Homo sapiens: one gene and its partners. The protein of the gene in region 4 binds, or shares a complex with, the protein of the main gene of each other region. Each region holds a gene or a part of one and is shown on either strand. Other genes may lie near its edges.

What was found.
Region 1: SNRPD1 (region 4) and SART1 share a complex: the UniProt entries of both Homo sapiens proteins name them as parts of the U4/U6-U5 tri-snRNP complex.
Region 2: SNRPD1 (region 4) and DHX16 share a complex: the UniProt entries of both Homo sapiens proteins name them as parts of the minor spliceosome.
Region 3: SNRPD1 (region 4) and PPIL2 share a complex: the UniProt entries of both Homo sapiens proteins name them as parts of the minor spliceosome.

The regions. Positions count from the first base shown.
Region 1 is NC_000011.10:65,975,225-65,979,688, forward strand, and holds part of SART1 (U4/U6.U5 tri-snRNP-associated protein 1), read left to right. Parts: intron 1-1,154; coding exon of another isoform or gene 1,155-1,170; coding exon 1,171-1,344; intron 1,345-1,431; coding exon 1,432-1,542; intron 1,543-1,789; coding exon 1,790-1,877; intron 1,878-2,338; coding exon 2,339-2,429; intron 2,430-2,539; coding exon 2,540-2,675; intron 2,676-3,375; coding exon 3,376-3,465; intron 3,466-3,568; coding exon 3,569-3,690; intron 3,691-3,787; coding exon 3,788-3,806; 3' UTR 3,807-4,464. UniProt on the Homo sapiens protein: Plays a role in mRNA splicing as a component of the U4/U6-U5 tri-snRNP, one of the building blocks of the spliceosome. May also bind to DNA.
Region 2 is NC_000006.12:30,662,052-30,666,515, reverse strand, and holds part of DHX16 (pre-mRNA-splicing factor ATP-dependent RNA helicase DHX16), read left to right. Parts: exon of another isoform or gene 1-621; intron 622-782; coding exon 783-1,037; intron 1,038-1,241; coding exon 1,242-1,445; intron 1,446-1,523; coding exon 1,524-1,715; intron 1,716-3,494; coding exon 3,495-3,605; intron 3,606-3,773; coding exon 3,774-3,889; intron 3,890-4,084; exon of another isoform or gene 4,085-4,464. UniProt on the Homo sapiens protein: Required for pre-mRNA splicing as a component of the spliceosome. Contributes to pre-mRNA splicing after spliceosome formation and prior to the first transesterification reaction.
Region 3 is NC_000022.11:21,686,503-21,690,966, forward strand, and holds part of PPIL2 (RING-type E3 ubiquitin-protein ligase PPIL2), read left to right. Parts: coding exon 1-56; intron 57-389; coding exon 390-496; intron 497-1,140; coding exon 1,141-1,230; intron 1,231-1,570; coding exon 1,571-1,604; intron 1,605-2,229; coding exon 2,230-2,347; intron 2,348-4,464. UniProt on the Homo sapiens protein: Has a ubiquitin-protein ligase activity acting as an E3 ubiquitin protein ligase or as an ubiquitin-ubiquitin ligase promoting elongation of ubiquitin chains on substrates.
Region 4 is NC_000018.10:21,614,119-21,619,531, forward strand, and holds part of SNRPD1 (small nuclear ribonucleoprotein Sm D1), read left to right. Parts: intron 1-5,413. UniProt on the Homo sapiens protein: Plays a role in pre-mRNA splicing as a core component of the spliceosomal U1, U2, U4 and U5 small nuclear ribonucleoproteins (snRNPs), the building blocks of the spliceosome.

The DNA of each region.
Region 1 (4,464 bases), on a different chromosome or scaffold from region 4:
CCCAAGTAGCTGAGACTACAGGCATACACCACCATGCCTGGTTGATCTTTGTGTTTTTTGTAGAGACTGTGCTTCACCTTATTGTCCAGGCTGGTCTCGAACTCCTGGGCTCAAGTGATCCTCCAGCCTCGGCCTCCCAAAGTGCTAGGATTATAGATGTGAGCAACCACCCGGCCCCTGGAAGAATTTTTTTTTTTTTTTTTTTTCGAGACGGGGTTTCACTCTTGCCCACTCTTTTGAGTGCAGTGGTGTGATCTTGGCAGCCTTGATCTCCCAAGCTCAAGCAGTACTCCCACCTCAGCCTCCCCAGTAGCTGGGACTATGGGCGTGTGTGACCACAATGTCTAATTTTTATGTTTTTTGTAGAGATGGGATTTGGGTATGTTGCCCAGGCTGGTCTCGATCTCCGGAACTCAAGCAGTCCACCCGCCTCAGAAGATTTTTTTAAAAAAATGAATGTAATATAAAATGAAAGAGGGGTGCAGAAGTGGACATAGTGACTCGAACCTTCACTGAGGAGTGAGGACTTTGCTGTCTGGGCTGCAGGGTTGAGGGAGAAGTTTTTTAAAGAGGGGAGATGGTAATCATTGTGTGTGGCTGGGCATCTGCGACAGGAGGGAAAGCAGAGGGTGCTGGTGCCCGTGTGGGGGTCGCTGGATTCAGTGCTGGCAGCATGAGTGAGTTCTCTTCCCATGTCACGGAACCTGCTTTCTTGGTGAAGCAGGAAGCGAGAAGCTGGGCTGTGGGAAGTCAAAAGCGTGGGCCACCTCACCACCCTGCGGGTTCTAGAAGTGCTGTCTAGAGTCCTGAAACCGGAGTTTGTCGGGGGAGGGGCAGGTGGCAGGAGGGAGCCTGGAGGAAGGAGTTTGAGGCTGAGGTAGTGTGTGAGGGGCTTTGGAGGGGGATTGGCACAGGCCTGGTCAGGAAGGCCCTGTAGGATGTTGGGTATTCATTCAAAGGGCATCCAAACCCATTGATGGGTTTGGAGCAGAAGAGTGACCCCAGTGAAAGAGGTGCAGAGTGGAGTTAGGCGGCAGATAGCAGCTGGGCCTGCATGGGCTGTGGGCGTGGCCTGTCTGGCTGCTGCCAGGGAGGACCCTTAGGTTCCTGGGTCTCAATGGCATCACCCCAGAAACTGCTGGGTTTGCCCACAGCCGCTCCCTCCCCCAGGTGGTGGAGATTGTGAAGAAGCTGGAGTCTCGCCAGCGGGGCTGGGAGGAGGATGAGGATCCCGAGCGGAAGGGGGCCATCGTGTTCAACGCCACGTCCGAGTTCTGCCGCACCTTGGGGGAGATCCCCACCTACGGGCTGGCTGGCAATCGCGAGGAGCAGGAGGAGCTCATGGTGCGTCTGGGGCGGCCCCGCCCTCTGCTTCCCTCGGCTGGGTGGGCTGGCTGGGGCCTGGGCCGACCCTGGTCTTTTGTGCCCCAGGACTTTGAACGGGATGAGGAGCGCTCAGCCAACGGTGGCTCCGAATCTGACGGGGAGGAGAACATCGGCTGGAGCACGGTGAACCTGGACGAGGAGAAGCAGCAGCAGGATGTGAGGGCCGCGCCGCTGGGGGGTGGGCGTTTGGGGGTGCTCAAGCTGGAGATGAGCACCGGGCTCGGTGTCCAGAGCCTCAGCCTCCTCATCCAGAGTGGGCTCTGCAGACCTCCCAGGGCGATCTGAGGAGTAAATGAGGAAATTAAATGTTGTGGAGGGCTGGTGCCTGGCAGGTGGTGACCAGTGGGTGGGGCTGAGAAGAGCCGGTATGGCCTGCTAACCACCCCCGCCACGTGTCCCGTAGTTCTCTGCTTCCTCCACCACCATCCTGGACGAGGAACCGATCGTGAATAGGGGGCTGGCAGCTGCCCTGCTCCTGTGTCAGAACAAAGGTAGGGAGCTCAGGGCAGCCATGACTTGGGTGGGCTTGGGTGCTGCTGCAGGTGCAGGCAGGGCCCCCTCCGGTCCCCTCTGCTGCCCCTTTCTCTCAGTCCCAATGCTGGAGCCAGCTGTCCGGCCCAGAGCCACTCCTTCCCCTCCACTGTGGCATCTGTCCGTCTGCTCTGCCTTTGAGGCTCCACACCTGCTTGGGGAAGGAGAGGGGAGTTGAAACTGTTCCAGCTGTGGCACAGAGAGCCCTGGTGTTAGGACCCCAGCTCTGCCATTTCCCTGGCCAGTGACCCTTGGCAAGGGGCTCATTTCTGCATCTTTGCTTTGCCTGTAGAACAGGCCTGATGGCTTTCCAGAGGCAAGGAAAGGGAGGTGCCCCCACAGGGCCTGCTCTGCCTTCTCAGGCGGCCCTGGAGCTGTGGCTCTCGAGGGGTTGGGAGTCTCACAACCCCTCCATCCCTAGGGCTGCTGGAGACCACAGTGCAGAAGGTGGCCCGGGTGAAGGCCCCCAACAAGTCGCTGCCCTCAGCCGTGTACTGCATCGAGGATAAGATGTGAGTGTGGTGGGGCCTGTGCAGGGCTGAGGGGCCTGTGCCAGCTTGGAGCTTCGGGACCACAGCAGGCGGCAGCTCCTCACACTAAGGCCTCCTCTGTCTCGGGCCAGGGCCATCGATGACAAGTACAGCCGGAGGGAGGAATACCGAGGCTTCACACAGGACTTCAAGGAGAAGGACGGCTACAAACCCGACGTTAAGATCGAATACGTGGATGAGACGGGCCGGAAACTCACACCCAAGGAGGTGAGCAGGGCCTTTTGCAGGCGGAGGCCCGGCCTGCCACAGGGAGGCCAAGCCCAGGGCCATGCAATGCCCCGGGCCATGCAATGCCCCAGGGTCCTGGCTCCACCAGCCTCTGGCTGGGGGCCTGGTGAATGCCACGGATGGGGAGGGGGCCCTCAGGGCTGAGGAAGGCTGTGCCTCAGTTTGTCTCTAGTGGGCACAGCAGTCTCTTTGCAAGCCTGGCAGGAGGGTCAGACAGGCACTCGGGACCTCTGCCCTCCTGTCCTCACCTGCGTGAGCCCTTCACTGGCTTTCCTGGCCCGCAGGGCCATTCCAGCGTCCAGGCCCTTCCAGCACTCTCGTAGGCCGCCCGACCGTCCTGCCCTACCACTCAGCTGCCCCCTTGCTCTCTGGGGTTTGTCTCCCTGCAGCCCCAGCCCCAGCCCCAGCGTCCAGGCCCAGCCCCTGCGTGGCAGGTCTCCAGGTTCCCCATGCTCTGCCCCCATGGCAGCGCATCCACTAGCCAAGCTGGTCTCCCGGCCTCTGCTGGGGCCCTGCAGGGTGCCAGCGTCTGTGCTCTTTTCCCATCCCCTTCCCACTGCACCCCAGGCCTGGCATTGGGGTCAATCAACACCCGCCCTGTTATTATACACCTTGTGGGCACAGGTGGCTCCGGCCCCACCCAGGGCCCTGCATCTCCTCTCATGCCCCGCGTCCCCAGGCTTTCCGGCAGCTGTCGCACCGCTTCCATGGCAAGGGCTCAGGCAAGATGAAGACAGAGCGGCGGATGAAGAAGCTGGACGAGGAGGCGGTGGGTGCCCTTGGGGATGTGGGGGGCCCTGTGCCTGCCGGGGCAGGGGTGGCTGGTGTGTGGGGCCTGCTGCAGCCCTTTCTGAGTGGCCCCGACCCCTCAGCTCCTGAAGAAGATGAGCTCCAGCGACACGCCCCTGGGCACCGTGGCCCTGCTCCAGGAGAAGCAGAAGGCTCAGAAGACCCCCTACATCGTGCTCAGCGGCAGCGGCAAGAGCATGAACGCGTGAGTGGCTCGAGGCTGGTGGGGTAGGGTGTGGTGGGGAGGGGTGGCGTGGCCTGTGCCCGCCTCTGCAGCCTCACGCCCCTGTTCTTCTCTGCAGGAACACCATCACCAAGTGACAGCGCCCTCCCGCCCCGGCCCTGCCTCAACCTTCATATTAAATAAAGCTCCCTCCTTATTTTTTCCTCCCTGGTCGTGGTACAGATTCCAGGGTTGGATCTTTGGTTGGGTGTGGCACAGAGTCTGGCTCCTGCTAGGTGAGACCTGGCCATCAAATGACACAAACAACTAAACGATGGAAGAGAGAGCGAGCCCGGGTCCTCTAAGGCTCCTTCCTTCTCCCCTGGCTGTCGGTCACACCTCTGCAGGGCCGGCTCTCTGATAGAAAGTGGAAGGCGGTTTTAGAAACTCATCACCCTGCTCTCTCCTGGCCTCGGGGGCTGCACAGGTCACTGTCCTGTAATGTCTCCCGGTCAGGGCAGCCCAGGACTGCCCAGCCTGGTGGGCTGGGGATTGGGCTTTGGGTAGGGCACAGGTGCCACCTTCTGTCCTGGCTGTCCTGTGCCACCCTGGTCTGTGTCTAGAGGAGTGAAACTCCCAGGGTTGGGCTGGGAGTATTTGGTGCACGCGGTATGGGGAGGGCTGAGCTCAGTGCCTCCTGGGAGACTTGTCCCGTGTACAGTGACCCAGAAAGATGAGATTCCTTGGCCTGAACTCTGTGATAGAGTGTGACTGAGCTGCTGGGGGACATGTGAGCCTCAAATCCATAGAAAGACA
Region 2 (4,464 bases), on a different chromosome or scaffold from region 4:
GGGGCTTTGACCTTGCAGTAGAGGAAGTTGTGATCACAGAGAGGATGATGTCATAGTGGGAGGACTCCTGGCAGGAAAGGGCCTTATAGATATTGCCAGTTTTCTGCTGTCATCCATAATGTGTCCTGAAAAGTTTGTATCAAAGGTAAATGTGTAGAAACTAAGTGAGACACAGCATGGTGAAGAGAGGTTAGTACCAGAAAGCCAAACATCCCTGATTACATTTGCCTTACAGAAACACTCTGATGCTGTAGTCCTAACTTTTTATAATCAGTTTTTCTCCCTTCCTCAAACTACAGTCATTCCGTTTAAGACCAAAGAACATCTAACTGGGGCTGAAGATTGCCTCCTGTTGGCCCCCTCACTGGTTTCTATCTTTGTCTGAATTGTTTTCGGTTTGAGTCCTGTGCTTCTAAATGCTGGATTAGCCTTTTATTTTCCCCCTTTCCACTAATTTGAATAAAATGGCAAGAGTAAAATATAAGCTACGCAGACATCTCCCTAGTGCATCTATATTAACAAAGATGATAATGCTGCCTAAGAGGACTTTCCAGCTGGATTCTGCTGCAGGAAGATACGATGTGGGGTCAGCATGTAGCATCCAAAGAGGCCCAGATTTGAGTATGTCATTGTTTTGGTTGTGCATTGCAGAGGGAAGGTAGAGGGTGCATCCTGAGGTTCTCATGCCTGCCTGTCAGGGGATTTTTCCCTTGTAGGGATTGGTAGAGAAAGGGGTTGCTCCTCCAGCAAGATGAGGATTCGACTGTCCTTTCCCAACTCAGGTCCCTGAGCTGCGGAAGAAATCTCGCCGAGAGTACCTGGCTAAGCGGGAGCGAGAGAAGCTTGAGGACCTGGAGGCGGAGCTGGCTGATGAGGAGTTCCTTTTTGGGGACGTGGAGCTGAGCCGGCACGAGCGGCAGGAGCTCAAATATAAGCGGCGAGTGCGGGATCTCGCCCGGGAGTACCGGGCAGCTGGGGAGCAGGAGAAGCTGGAGGCCACCAATCGCTACCACATGCCCAAGGAAACCCGAGGACAGGTGAGGTGAAGCGGCGTCTGCTTCAGCCTTGGTCCCCAAGACAAGTTGTGGGGAAGGCTTCAGGGGATTGGGCAACACGTGGGTCATCCCCTTTCTTGCCTTGCCGTTCCCAATGGGCAGTGGGCGGGGGTAGTAATGGGAAGAGGGGAGAGGGCAGAGAGGACATCCTGTTTTTGAGTCTTCACATATCCCCTCTCTCTGTAGCCAGCCCGAGCTGTGGATCTAGTGGAGGAGGAATCAGGAGCCCCTGGGGAGGAGCAGCGGCGCTGGGAGGAGGCGCGGCTTGGGGCAGCGTCCCTGAAGTTTGGGGCCCGAGATGCTGCCTCTCAGGAGCCCAAGTATCAACTGGTGCTGGAGGAGGAGGAGACCATTGAGTTTGTCCGGGCCACTCAGCTCCAGGGTGATGAGGTAAGAGGGGAGCTGGGAGACTTTCTGAGGAAGACCCGTAGCGAGCTATTTAGCTCACACCTCCTTCTCTTTCCTTAGGAGCCGTCAGCTCCACCCACTTCAACTCAGGCCCAGCAGAAAGAGTCCATCCAGGCCGTCCGCCGCAGCCTCCCGGTGTTCCCATTTCGAGAGGAGCTCCTGGCTGCTATTGCAAATCACCAAGTCCTCATCATTGAAGGCGAGACAGGCTCAGGGAAGACCACCCAGATCCCGCAGTATCTCTTTGAGGAGGTACAGTCATCTCACCCTTCAGCTTGCCAGGGCACCTGGCATCAATGTCCTCATTCCTGTCAGAGCTCCTTTTACATTATATTTTTAGTAGTCACTTACCTATCTTTTCCACTAAATTGTGAAATTCTTGAGAGTAAAGACCATACCCTTTTCACATTTCTGTTCTCACTTCCTGCATTCATTTCATTTGGAAGGACGGGTAGATGGATAGGTGGAGTGGGGCGTGTATAAATGTGGACCTCCCTATGCTCCAACGTGGCCAAAAAACAAGGAGTTAAAGGACTATTTTCCTGCCTTTTTGTTAGTTTTTTTTTTTTTTTTTTGGAGACGGAGTCTTGCTCTGTCACCCAGGCTGGAGTGCAGTGGTGCGATCTTGGCTTACTGCAACCTCTGACTCCTGGGTTCAAGGAATTCTCCTGCGTCAGCCTTCAGAGTAGCTGGAATTACAGGCATGCGCCACCACACCTGGCTAATTTTTTAGTAGAGATGGGGTTTCACCATGTTGGCCAGGCTGCTCTCGAACTCCTGACCTCAAGTGATCCAGCCACCTCAGCCTCCCAAAGTGCTGGGATTACAGGTGTGAGCCACTGTGCCTAGCCCCTGCCTTATTTTGGAGACAGGCTCTTGCTCTGATGCCCAAGCTGGAGTGATGTGGCACCATCATGACTCACTGCAACCTGGGACTCCTGGGCTCAAGAGATCATCCCACCTCAGCCTCCTGAGTATCTGGGAGGTGCACACCACCATGCCCATATTAAACATTTTTTGTTTTTTTTTGAGGTGGAGTCTTGCTCTGTCACCAGGCTGGAGTGCAGTGGCGCGATCTTGACTCACTGCAACCTCCACCTCCTGGGTTCAAGTGATTCTCCTGCCTCAGCCTCCTAAGTAGCTGGGACTACAGGTGCGTACCACCACACCCAGCTAATTTTTGTATTTTTAGTAGAGATGGGGTTTCACCATGTTGGCCAGGATGGTCTCAATCTCCTGACCTCGTGATCTGCCCACCTCAGCCTCCCAAAGTGCTGGAGTTACAGGTGTTAGCCACTGTGCCTGGCCTGAAATTTTTTTTTTTTTTTTTTTGAGACAGAGTCTTGCTCTGTTGCCCAGGCTGGAGTGCGGTGGCATGATCTTGGCTTACTGCAACCTCTGTCTCCCAGGTTCAAGCGACTCTCCTGCCTCAGCCTCCCAAGTAGCTGGAAATACAGGCATGCACCACCATGCTCGGCTAATTTTTTGTATTTTTAGTAGACGGGGTTTCACCATTTTGGCCAGGCTGGTCTCGAACTCCCAACCTCAGGAGATCCGTCTGCCTCGGCCTCCCAAAGTGCTGGAATTGCAGGTGTGAGCCACTGTGCCTGGTCAAAATTTTGAATTTTTAATTTTTTTGTCACACTATGTTGCCCAGGCTGGTCTCGAACTCCTGAGCTCAAGCCATCCTCCCACCTCAGCCTCCCAAAGTACTAGGATTACAGGCATGAGCCACTGTGCCCAGCCTTCCTGCTTTTTTACCTTAGCTGGCTCTGTCTCAGCTAATCTGTTCTTTTCCAGCTCAAGTCTAGCAGAGTCATGAACTTAATTACCCAGAGCTGGGTGAGGACCCCCTTTGAGGGCCCTAGGTCTGTCATCCTATCTATTTGCCCTTCTTTTCTGGTTTTCAGCATCTGTCTTTTCCTCCTTTTCTCCTGCCTGGTTTTTACAACTTCTTTCTCTGAAATGTACCTGGTCCCAGGGTGCATATTTAGTAAAGGGCAAACTTCTTCTTTTTTCTTTGTCATTCAGGGTTATACAAACAAGGGTATGAAGATTGCCTGCACCCAACCCCGGAGAGTGGCTGCCATGAGTGTGGCCGCCCGAGTGGCCCGGGAGATGGGTGTGAAGCTTGGGAATGAGGTGAGATTTCTAGGGAACCGGGGGGTAGAGTCTGGGGTCTGTGACTCAGTCTACAGTTCCCTCAGGTCCCTACAGCAGAAGTCTTGGTGCTGCCCCACTTCACCTTTCCCCAAGTTCCTTTCAGGGCACACCAGCCCACACTTGGTTGCTAATGGTTCCCTTGACCAGGTTGGCTACAGCATCCGCTTTGAGGACTGCACATCAGAGCGAACTGTCCTCCGCTACATGACAGATGGGATGCTTCTCCGGGAGTTCCTCTCTGAGCCTGACCTGGCGAGTTACAGGTATCTCTAATCTCTGGCCTTTCTCTCCCTTCTTCCCACCCAGCCAATTCAGCCATTGTCTTCTGATTAATCCACCCGTTCTTGAATCTTTGTGGTTCAAATGGTCCTTGAACTGACCTCCAGGTACCACGGAGATGGGGCTGGAGGACAGAAGAGATTGTAGAGAAAGCCTCTTCTTTCCCCATTCATCTCCAGGGTTTAGAAAACAACCAGGATAGCAGAGCATTGCTGCCGAGACTTGAAATACCGTGTGAAGACCATTTGAAAACACTTGGAATGCTCAGCTCAGAGGGAGAAACAGGAAGCATCCTGGTTCCCTCTAAATATGTGAAGGCTGTTACATGGAAAGAAGGATCAGATTGTTTTATGTGACCCTACACGACATAGCTAGGAGCCATGGGGAGGTTACAGGGAGACAGATTCCAACTCAATACCAATGGCTGAGTAACCCTCAGAGTGGTGGAGATTGCAGGGCCTGTCAGAGTGGTTGGACTCTGGGTCTTGGCCCTCCACACAAGTCTTGGGTAGCTTGGTCTGTGAATAATGAGCTCTTAGTGCTGGAAATGGCCAAGCAG
Region 3 (4,464 bases), on a different chromosome or scaffold from region 4:
GGTCAGCGCTTCCTTCACCTCCACCGCGATGGTCCCGGAGACCACACATGAAGCAGGTAGCCACCTTGGCCTCTGTAGCCACCTGCCATGTGACCCAAAAGTGGCAGGGGGTGGGTGTGCTCCCCGACTCCCACTTTATTGGTCTGTCAGGGGCTCCCACTGTCACCTGAGCCCCTAGTCCTCCCCCTCTTAGCTGCTGAACCCCTGCCAGCCCCATGAGGCTGGGGTGAGCCTGTGCGTGGCCTAAGCAGACCCTCGGCCTCCAGCTCCCCTGCTCTCCCCAGAGCTGGAGCCTAGTCCCCGCCTGTGTGTCTGAGGTCGGTGCTGCCTGGCATGGTGGGGCTGCCCCAGGGTGAGGGCAGGGGCTGAGCTGGGACCTTGGCTTGTAGCTGCCATCGACGAGGATGTGCTGCGCTACCAGTTTGTGAAGAAGAAGGGCTACGTGCGGCTGCACACCAACAAGGGCGACCTCAACCTGGAGCTGCACTGCGACCTGGTGGGTGTGGAGGCCAGCCACTCCCCATGCCCCAAGGTCATCTCTGGGTCATCTGACAGCCATGTCTTAAATATAGGGCTGCCACTGGTATGTGCTTGTTGTAGGAAATTCAGCCTGTCACTAGGCGGGACCCGCAGCAGTGCCCTGTGTCCTTCCTAGGGGGCCGCGTTGGCAGCATGGCCTGCGCACAGGTGCCAGTGTCTCAGAGAAGGGGCCAAGCCGCACCTGCTGCTCTGCCCACACTTCTCCCATGCGCTGTACTCTGGGCCGTGCGGCTGCACGGGTCCTGTTGCTTAATGTTGTGGGTCCATCCGTGCCCAGTGTGGCTGGGCAGCTGACTCTGCTACATGTTAAAGACCAGCCTGGCCAACATGGGGAAACCCGTCTCTACTAAAACTACAAAAATTAGCCAGGCATGGTGGCGCATGCCTGTAGTCCTGGCTACTCGGGAGGCTGAGGCAGGAGAATGTCTTGAACCTAGGAGGCGGAGGTTGCAGTGAGCCAAGATCGCGCCACAGCACTCCAGCCTGGGCAACAGCAAGACTCCACCTCAAAAAAAAAAAAAAAAAAAAAGCCTCCTGTGGCTGTGGTGAGCTGCCTTTGGCAGCTCTCTGCTTCATACAAGTATTGGGGCTATGTTGCAGACACCAAAAACCTGCGAAAACTTCATCAGGCTTTGCAAGAAGCATTATTACGATGGCACCATCTTCCACAGATCCATCCGGAACTTTGTGGTGAGTGACGAGAGTCACTGGCTGCACAGATGAGCTTGGTGGGACATCGGGGGCTGGGTGGGCTTGTCCCTGCCCCATCCCAGGGCCCTGGCCCATCCCACGGTGGCCAGGATGAGTCCAGTTGGTGATCCTCTGTTGGGGAACCCATAGACTGACCCTTGAGGCCCCAGCCCATCCAGAACTGGGTTCACAAAGGGAGGTGGCTGGGAGGGCCCCTCATTATCACCAAGAGCCCAGCCCCTGTGTGGAGCCATCTGGCAGGAGGGGTGTCCTTCAGTCAGGCAGGCGGTGGGCCTCGGGTCTCAGAGTGTGACTTGCTCACTGGCTTTTGTTTTCACAGATCCAAGGGGGCGACCCCACAGGCACAGGCACGGGTAGGTACTGGTGCTGGGCCCCTCTCTGGGCACTTTGGCTGCTCCGTGGGGCATGAGGGGGTAGCTGGGCAGGGGTTGTGCACAGCTCAGACATGGAATCTGCTAGACCAGGGTGGAACGACTGGCAGCCATCAGTGCTGTGCCCCCTCAGGCCTGGCCCTCAGTTTTCTCATTTCCAGGTGGCTGTGAGGCCTGCATGGTAGAGGAGGCAAGAGTGTGTGGTCTCTTCCCTGGGCCCCTGGGGTCTGCCTCAGACTGAGGCCAGCCCTCCCTCCTGCAGCCTCTCCAAGCCCCTCAGCCTGGCAGCTGCTTGGGTCCAGATCCCCCAACCTCTGTATTCCCATAGCTTGAGTGATGATGATGGTGGCCTTGACTCTTTAATCCCTGTCCCGGGGCAGGCCCCAGGCGGGGCTGGGGTGAGTGGGCAGCAGCCTGCCTGTTTGGAGGCGTGGGGGCTCCAAGGGACCCAGGAGTTGGTGGCGTGGGGCTGGGAGCCTCCCTATCAAGTGCCCCTGCCCCAGGCTGGGCTCAGCAAGGCCCTGATGCCCCTCGGGACTCTGAGGTTTCTAGTTCTGCCTCGGCTGGGGCCCAGGCTTTCCTGCTCCCATGGGCCTTTCTCTTCCAGGTGGGGAGTCATACTGGGGGAAGCCCTTCAAAGACGAGTTCCGGCCCAACCTCTCGCACACGGGCCGCGGCATCCTCAGCATGGCCAACTCCGGGCCCAACAGCAACAGGTCTCAATTGTGAGTCAGCTGGGCTTGCTGGGGTGGCCTGGGAGGTGAGCCGGCACTCTCTGCGGGTTCTTCCTCTTGGCCCTCTCTGAAGGGTGTGCTGGTTCTGAATCATACCCAGACGGTGTACGGCACACCTAGGCCAAGCATGTGCACCTGCGTTCAAAAGGGGGTCCCCAGAGTGAGTCAGCAGGGAGAGCTGCCCGCACCGGGTGTGTCCTCGAGAGACCAGAAGTCGGGAATTACTGGAGGTCCAGAAGGGCTTCTTGACAGGGACCAGGCATTCGTGTGGGTGCCTGTGGCCAGGCAGTGCTGGGGGAGGTCAGCGTGTGGGAGGGGTTGTGCAGGGCACAGGCTGCACAGGGAGAGGCGCCTGGAGAGACACAGGAGGTCTGGCCCTGGTGCATGTGGGGAGCAGTGTGCAGTCTGGTGGCAGGAGGCAGGGGATGGGGGGCCAGCAGGGCCATGCACACAGGGGCCGGATGCCTGTATTGTGGAAGAACAGAGGTGCCCTTTCCATCCCCAGACAGTGGCCTGATGTTATGTTTCAGTCTTTCAATCGTTTTCTTCACATGGGTCCTGTGACTTCCGGGATAAAGCAACCTCTTAAGGATTTTTTATAGTTTATGATACTTTTGTAAATGGACTTTTTTTTTCCCAACTTTTGGGGATCATTGCTCATGTAGAGAAAAACTACCGTTCATTTTATATCTAGCCACTTTAACAAATTATCTTATAATTCAAAAGTTTTTAAGATTTTTTTGGGTTTTCTAGATAGTCACGCTTATCACCAAAAGCTGGTCTGCTCTCTGCTTCCCTGGTGTGCACATCAGTCACGTCACCGTCACGTCACCGTGGGCCTGATGGGGGAGGAGGATGTGGGCATCTTGCTGTGCTCCACAGAAATCGCTGTTTTGCCTTCTCAGAACATTTGTTGTTGGGCTGTTTTTAGGAGGGTGGCTGACTTTTTAGAGGTTTCTTTGTTAGCATCTACTATGATGATTCTGTCCTTTTTCTGGTCCTCCCGGGATTTGTGGATGTGGCCACTACAAGGCCAGAGTGGATGGGTGTCTCCGTGGCATTCTGGGGTGAACCCTGGCCTGTCGTGGCTTCGCCGTGGCCTTCTGCCAGCTCACTGTCACACGTGGTCTCGGTTGTGTGGACTGGCTCCAGCAGGTTTTGCTGTGACAGGTGTGGCCCCTGCATGTTACGAGCAGGGCTGGCTGTGGCTTTGTGGCCTGGAATGGTTAAAATCACAGGGATGGCCAGGCGTGGTGGCTCACACCTGTAATCCCAGCACTTTGGGAGGCTGAGGTAGGTGGATTGCCTGAGCCCAGGAATTCGAGAGCAGCCTGGGCAACATGGCAAAACCCGATCTCTACAAAAAATAAAAAAAATTAGCGGGGCATGGTGGCGTGCGCCTGTAGTCCCAGCTGCTTGGGAGGGTGAGGTGGGGGGATAATCTGAGCCTGGGAAGTCAAAGCTGCAGTGAGCTAGGATCGCGCCACTGCACTCTATCCTGGGCAGCAGTGAGACCCTGTCTGGAAAAAAAAAAAAAAATCAAACGAGTCAGCTGTGCTTAACAGCTGGGCAAAGGCAGCTGGCAGCTATTCGTGCCACTTCCTTGGGGCTTTCATTTCAGGGTTAACGGGCACTTGTTTCCATGAAGGCTGGTATTCTCTTGGCCTCGCTGTGCTGACCTTTTTTTCTCATGCCTAATCACACTTTCCATTCCTCAGTCCCTTAGTGGTCTTTGAAGGGTTTGTCTGTTTTCACTTCACTTTGAAGGGTTTGTAATTGTTTTCAGTTTCTGTCTTTGCTTCTTCATGGTGCTTTTCCTCCTTCCTCACTTTAATCCATGTGTGTTTCTGATAGCCACGTCTGTCATTTTGAGGGTGCATGTTCCCTCTTCACTGCTTGCTGGTTGTTGGTAGCTTCCCTTTCAATTTCTTCTCAGCCAAGGATTGCCTAGGACTGTTGGTTATTTTCAAGTAGGTTGGGTGCGTGGTTTGTTTTTGTTGTTTGGCAGGGGCCAGGGCAGGGAATCATTTTATTATTTTTTATTTCTCTTTGGCTTAACCAGCCTGTGAAACTGCTGACAGATCAGTTGCCACCTTCTCTTTTTTTTT
Region 4 (5,413 bases):
AAAAATTAGCCGGGCATGGTGGCGGGCGCCTGTAATCCCAGCTACTCAGGAGGCTGAGGTAAGAGGATCACTTGATCCTGGGAGGTTGCAGTGAGCTGAGATCGCACCACTGCACTCCAGCCTGGGCAACAGAGTGAGACTCGGTCTCAAAAAAAGAAAATTACATTTTTTGAAATTTCTCCATACCTGCCAATCTGAATCTTAATCCACTCATAGTTCAATTTTGTGTAATACACCTTGGATTCCATTTGTTCCCTTTAAAGATACTGCATGTTATGACAATTTTCCAGTAATTTTTAATACCTGTACTGAATCCTGTTTTGTGTCTTAGGTAAAATATAGAAACAAATTTTTTTTCTTACCAGAGAATGTATTTTTCCTCCAGAAAATGATTGTTTGACTAACTGGTTTGCATTTTCAGTAGATTTATTTCTGTATCTCAGTTGGCAGCATTGTCATCCTTATTCTCACTGTCACCCTAACCAAAAACCTGGGAGGTGAGCTTGACTTTTTCTCTCCTGATGTCCTTGACATTTGATACATTGCCAATTTTGCCAGTTTTACCTACTTCATAAAAGTGACCCACATTATCCTGTTTGGTTTTTGGGTTCAAATAGTGTGTTTTATACTGAGGGACACTGTGTTACTATTTGATATCCAAGTTTCACTAAGTGGAAAGAATTCAGACAGTGAAAGATTCATCTGAAAATAATTTGAATCCATTTGGTTCCTGGGCTCAGTTAGGGAGGGATAATTGTGTATTTGTCCTGCCCATAGTAGCCTTTCATTCCAGTCACCACCATTAAGTTCAGGCCCTTTTTATCCCACTCATGGATTTTTGTTTTCCTTCTTTAAGGTAAATATCTTATACAATGAAATGCAGTGTATATTTCCTGCTATTGAAAAATGTAAACACTTTTGTAACCTAAACCCATATCAACAGAAGTAACATTACCAAAACCTCAGACAGTTTCCTCAAGCCTTTCCCAGGCAACCTCTGGCTCCATACCCCTAGATGCAACCAGTTTCTTCCACCAGAAATGAATTTTGCCTGCGCTAGAATTTCATATATTTGGAATCACAAAGTATTTTTGCGTAAAACTTCTTTTAGTTACATGTTTTTGAGATTCATCCACATTGTGAAGTGTATCAGTAATGTGTTCATTTTTATTACTGGATATTAGTGCATTGTGTGTTTGGAAGTTCTGTATTTTAGGCCGGGCGCAGTGGCTCACGTCTGTAATCCCAGCACTTTGGGAGGCCGAGGCGGGTAGATCACCTGAGGTCAGGAGTTTGAAACCAGCCTGACCAACATGGTGAAACCCCATCTCTACTAAAAATACCAAAAAAGTAGCTGGGCATGGTGGCAGGTGCCTGTAATCCCAGCTACAAGGGAGGCTGAGGCAGGAGAATCCCTTGAACCCAGGAGGTGGAGATTGCAGTGAGCTGAGATCACGCCATTGCACTCCAGCTTGGGCAACAGAGCGAGACTCCGTCTCAAAAAAAAAGAAAAAAGAAAAAAAAAGCTCCGTATTTTAAAAAATTACAAGAAAATAAAATAAAAAGTTATGTATTTTGTTTACAACTACGTTGAATATTCTTCAGGTTTTTGGAGGGAAACAAATTTTCGTGGGTAAATACTCGAGTGGAGTTGATGGACTGTAACATAGTTATGTGTTTAGCTTTTTAAGAAATTTCCAGACCATTTTCCAAAGTGGTTGTACCATTTTACACTTCCATTAACAATATATTAGAATAACAATTGGTCCACATCCTCACCAGTATGTGGTGTTGTTTGCTCAGTCTTTAATTTTAGCCATTTTAGTGGGTATGTAGTGGTATCTCCTTAGGGTTTAGTCGGTTTTTTGCTTATTTGTTTGTTTTTGAGGCGGAGTCTCACTCTGTCACCCAGGCTGGAGTGCAGTGGCATGATCTTGGTTCACTGCAAGCTCCGCCTCCTGGGTTCACGCCATTCTCCTGCCTCAGCCTCCCGAGTAGCTGGGACTACAGGCGCCTGCCACCACGCCCGGCTAATTTTTTGTATTTTTAGTAGAGACGGGATTTCACCGTGTTAGCCAGGATGTTCTCAATCTCCTGACCTCGTGATCCGCCCGCCTTGGCCTCCCAAAGTGCTGGGATTACTGGCGTGAGCCACTGCGCCCAGCCCAGAGTTGTAGAAATTAGATCTGTGTCCTGGATACCAGTTCTTTGTCAGATGTGTTTTCTCTCAGTGTGTGGTTTACATGTTCATTTCCTTAATAGTGTCTCTCTTCTTGTAGCTCAGGCTGGAGTACAATTGTGCGATCTCAGCTCACTGCAACCTCTGCCTTCCAGGTTCAAGCGATTCTCCTACCTCAGCCTCCCAAGTAGCTGGGATTACAGGCGCCTGCCACCACGCCTGGCTAATTTTTGTATTTTTAGTAGAGACAGGGTTTCACCATGTTGGTCAGGCTGGTCTCGAACTCCTGACCTTGTGATCCACCCGCCTTGGCCTCCCAAAGTACTGGGATTACAGGCGTGAGCCACCATGCCTGACTGATCGATTTTTATGTATCTGGAACTCTTTAAGTCTTTTTTTTTTTTTTTGAGATGGAGTCTTGCTCTGTTGCCAGACTGGAGTGCAGTGGCGCACTCTCGGCTCACTGCGACCTCCACCTCCCAGGTTCAAGTGATTCCCCTGCCTCAGCCTCCCGAGTAGCTGGGACTACAGGCATGTGCCACTATGCCTGGCTTATTTTTTTTGTATTTTAGTAGAGATGGGATTTCACCACTTTGGCCAGGCTGGTCTCGATCTCCTGACCTTGTGATCTGCCTGCCTTGGCCTCCCAAAGTGCTGGGATTACAGGCGTGAGCCACTGTGCCCAGCCTATATCTGGAACTCTTGGGCTCAAGTGACTATCATCCATCTTGGATTACTTTTGGAAAATGGTGTTAGTGGTCCAGGTTCGTTTTTTTTCTGTATGGATTTCCAGTTATTCCAGCATCATTTGTTGAAAACACTTTCCTTTGCCTGTTACACGTCTTTGGCACCTTTGTAAAAAATCAACCATATAAGGCCAGGCTTGGTGGCTCATGCCTGTAATCCCAGCACTTTTCGGAATCCAAGGCAGGCAGATCACCTGAGGTCAGGAGTTCGAGACCAGCCTGACCAACATGGTGAAACCCCGGCTCTACTAAAACAAAAAGAAATACAAAAATTAGCTGGTTGTGGTGGCGAGTGCCTGTAATCCCAGCTAAATCAACCATGTAAATGTGGGACCAGAAATAGATCTGTTTGCTTGTATTGTTTCATTGATCTATTTGTTGTTCCTTATGTCTCGATTACTGTAGTTTTAACTTGTATATGTACTGCTCTAGTCACATAATTTGTCTTCCTAGAGATTATACTTTGGTCTCTTGTCTTTCTAAAATCTGTTTCTGAACATTGGCCCTAGGTTCTCTTTTAAATGTGAATATGAGCCTGGTACTCCACTTCATTGATGAAAATCCTTCAGTAGCTCTCCTAGAGGAATTCTTTAACAGAGCTTAGGCTTTCCATGAAAGGAACCTGCCTAACTCCTCTCTACTCATAGGACCTAAAATATTGAACTTAACATTTCATCGGCCAGGCGTGGTGGTTCATGCTTGTCATCGTAGCACTTTGTGAGGCCGAGGCAGGCAGATCACTTGGGCCAACATGGTAAAACCCCGTCTCTACTAAAAATACAAAAATTAGCTGGGTGTGGTGGCATGCGCCTGTAGTCTCAGCTACTTGGGAGGCTGAGGCACAAGAATCTCTTGAACCCGGGAGACGGAGGTTGCAATGAGCTCAGATTGAGATTGCGCTATTGCACTCCAGCCTGGGCAACAGAACAAGACTCCATCTTTGTATCTATAATTACTCTGTGTCTTATGCTGTATTTTTTCTTTTGTTTCTTCTTGCTGCATATTTCCAACTTTTCAGGCTTCTTACTAGGAGTCCCCTAATACCTGACTCCCCTCTCCACATGCTACAATATATTCTTAGTAAAAAACCTGTGTGTAGCTGGGTGCAGTGGCTCACGCTTGTAATCCCAGCACTTTGGGAGGCCAAGGCAGGCTGATTGCTTGAGCTCAGGAGTTTAAGACTAGTCTAGGCAACATGGCAAAACCACATCTCTACAAAAAATTTAAAAATTTAAAAAATATTAGCCGGGCATGGTGGCATAGTCTCAGAAAAAACCTAAACTAAAAACCTCTGTTTAAAAAAAAACACAAAAAAAACCTCTGTATATCTTTATTGCTTTCTACAACTTAGTTATTTTTACGTATCTTTTATGTATCTGAGCCACCGCGCCTGGCCACATAAGGTTTTTTTTTTCCTTTTATTTATCTTCTTTGCTTCCAAAAATGATTTGAAGAACTTTTATAGTAAAAGTTCTTACTAACTGGGATAGTAAATTCGTGTAAAAGATAAAAACAAAAACTTGATAATGGGAGGAAACCATTAGTTCAGAATTCTAGGCTTTTCTAGTTATAATTGATTGTTAAATTTGGAGCTGAATAACTCTCTGGTGAAATAAAGTGTTACCAATTCGTTGAGAAAAACGTTTTCTTGATGTCATATATAAAAAGAGATTCAACTCATGAGTCTTCTTAAAGTTTGAGGCTTGTTATATCCCAGACCAAGTAATTTCTTTTTTGTGATGGCTGTCTATACCACTAAAAAAAAAGAAATTAAAAAAAGGCATTTTAAGGTTGGTTTCCCTTTATTCATTAAAACATTTCAGCCAACATTATTCAGTGCCTATTACAGTCTAGGATTAGATATAGAGCTTACGATCCCTACCCTCAAGAATAGTCTAGTGCGGGAGGATAATAGGTTATCTTATGTGTACCATTTAGTGTGATGATAGGATCTGTTAATTCAAAGTATATATTATAGACTAAAAGTTTTTATATGAACTGTGTATTGTATGATAGTGTGGGGTTCATTTTCTTAGATGTGATTGTGAGATTATGGTTATATAGGAGAATGTCATTAGAAAATGCATGCTGAAGTGTCGTAATGCCTACAACTTACTTTGAGATGGTGTGATCAATTTTTTTTCGTTTGTTTTTTTGACAAAGTCTCACTCTATTGTCCAGGCTGGAGTTTAGTGGTGCAGTCTTGGCTCACTGCAACCTCTGCCTCCCAGGCTCAAGCAATTCTCCTGCCTCAGCCTCCCCAGTAGCTGGGATTACAGTCAAGTGCCACCAAGTCTGGCTAATTTTTTTGTATTTTTAGCAGAGACGGGGTTTCGCCATGTTGGCCAGGCTGGTCTCGAACTTCTGACCTCAGGTGATCCGCCTGCCTCGCCCTCCCAAAGTGCTGGGATTACAGGGATGAGCCACCACACCTGGCGAAGACTGTCTTTAAAAAAAAGGGCCAGGCCTGGTGGCTTACGCCTGTAAT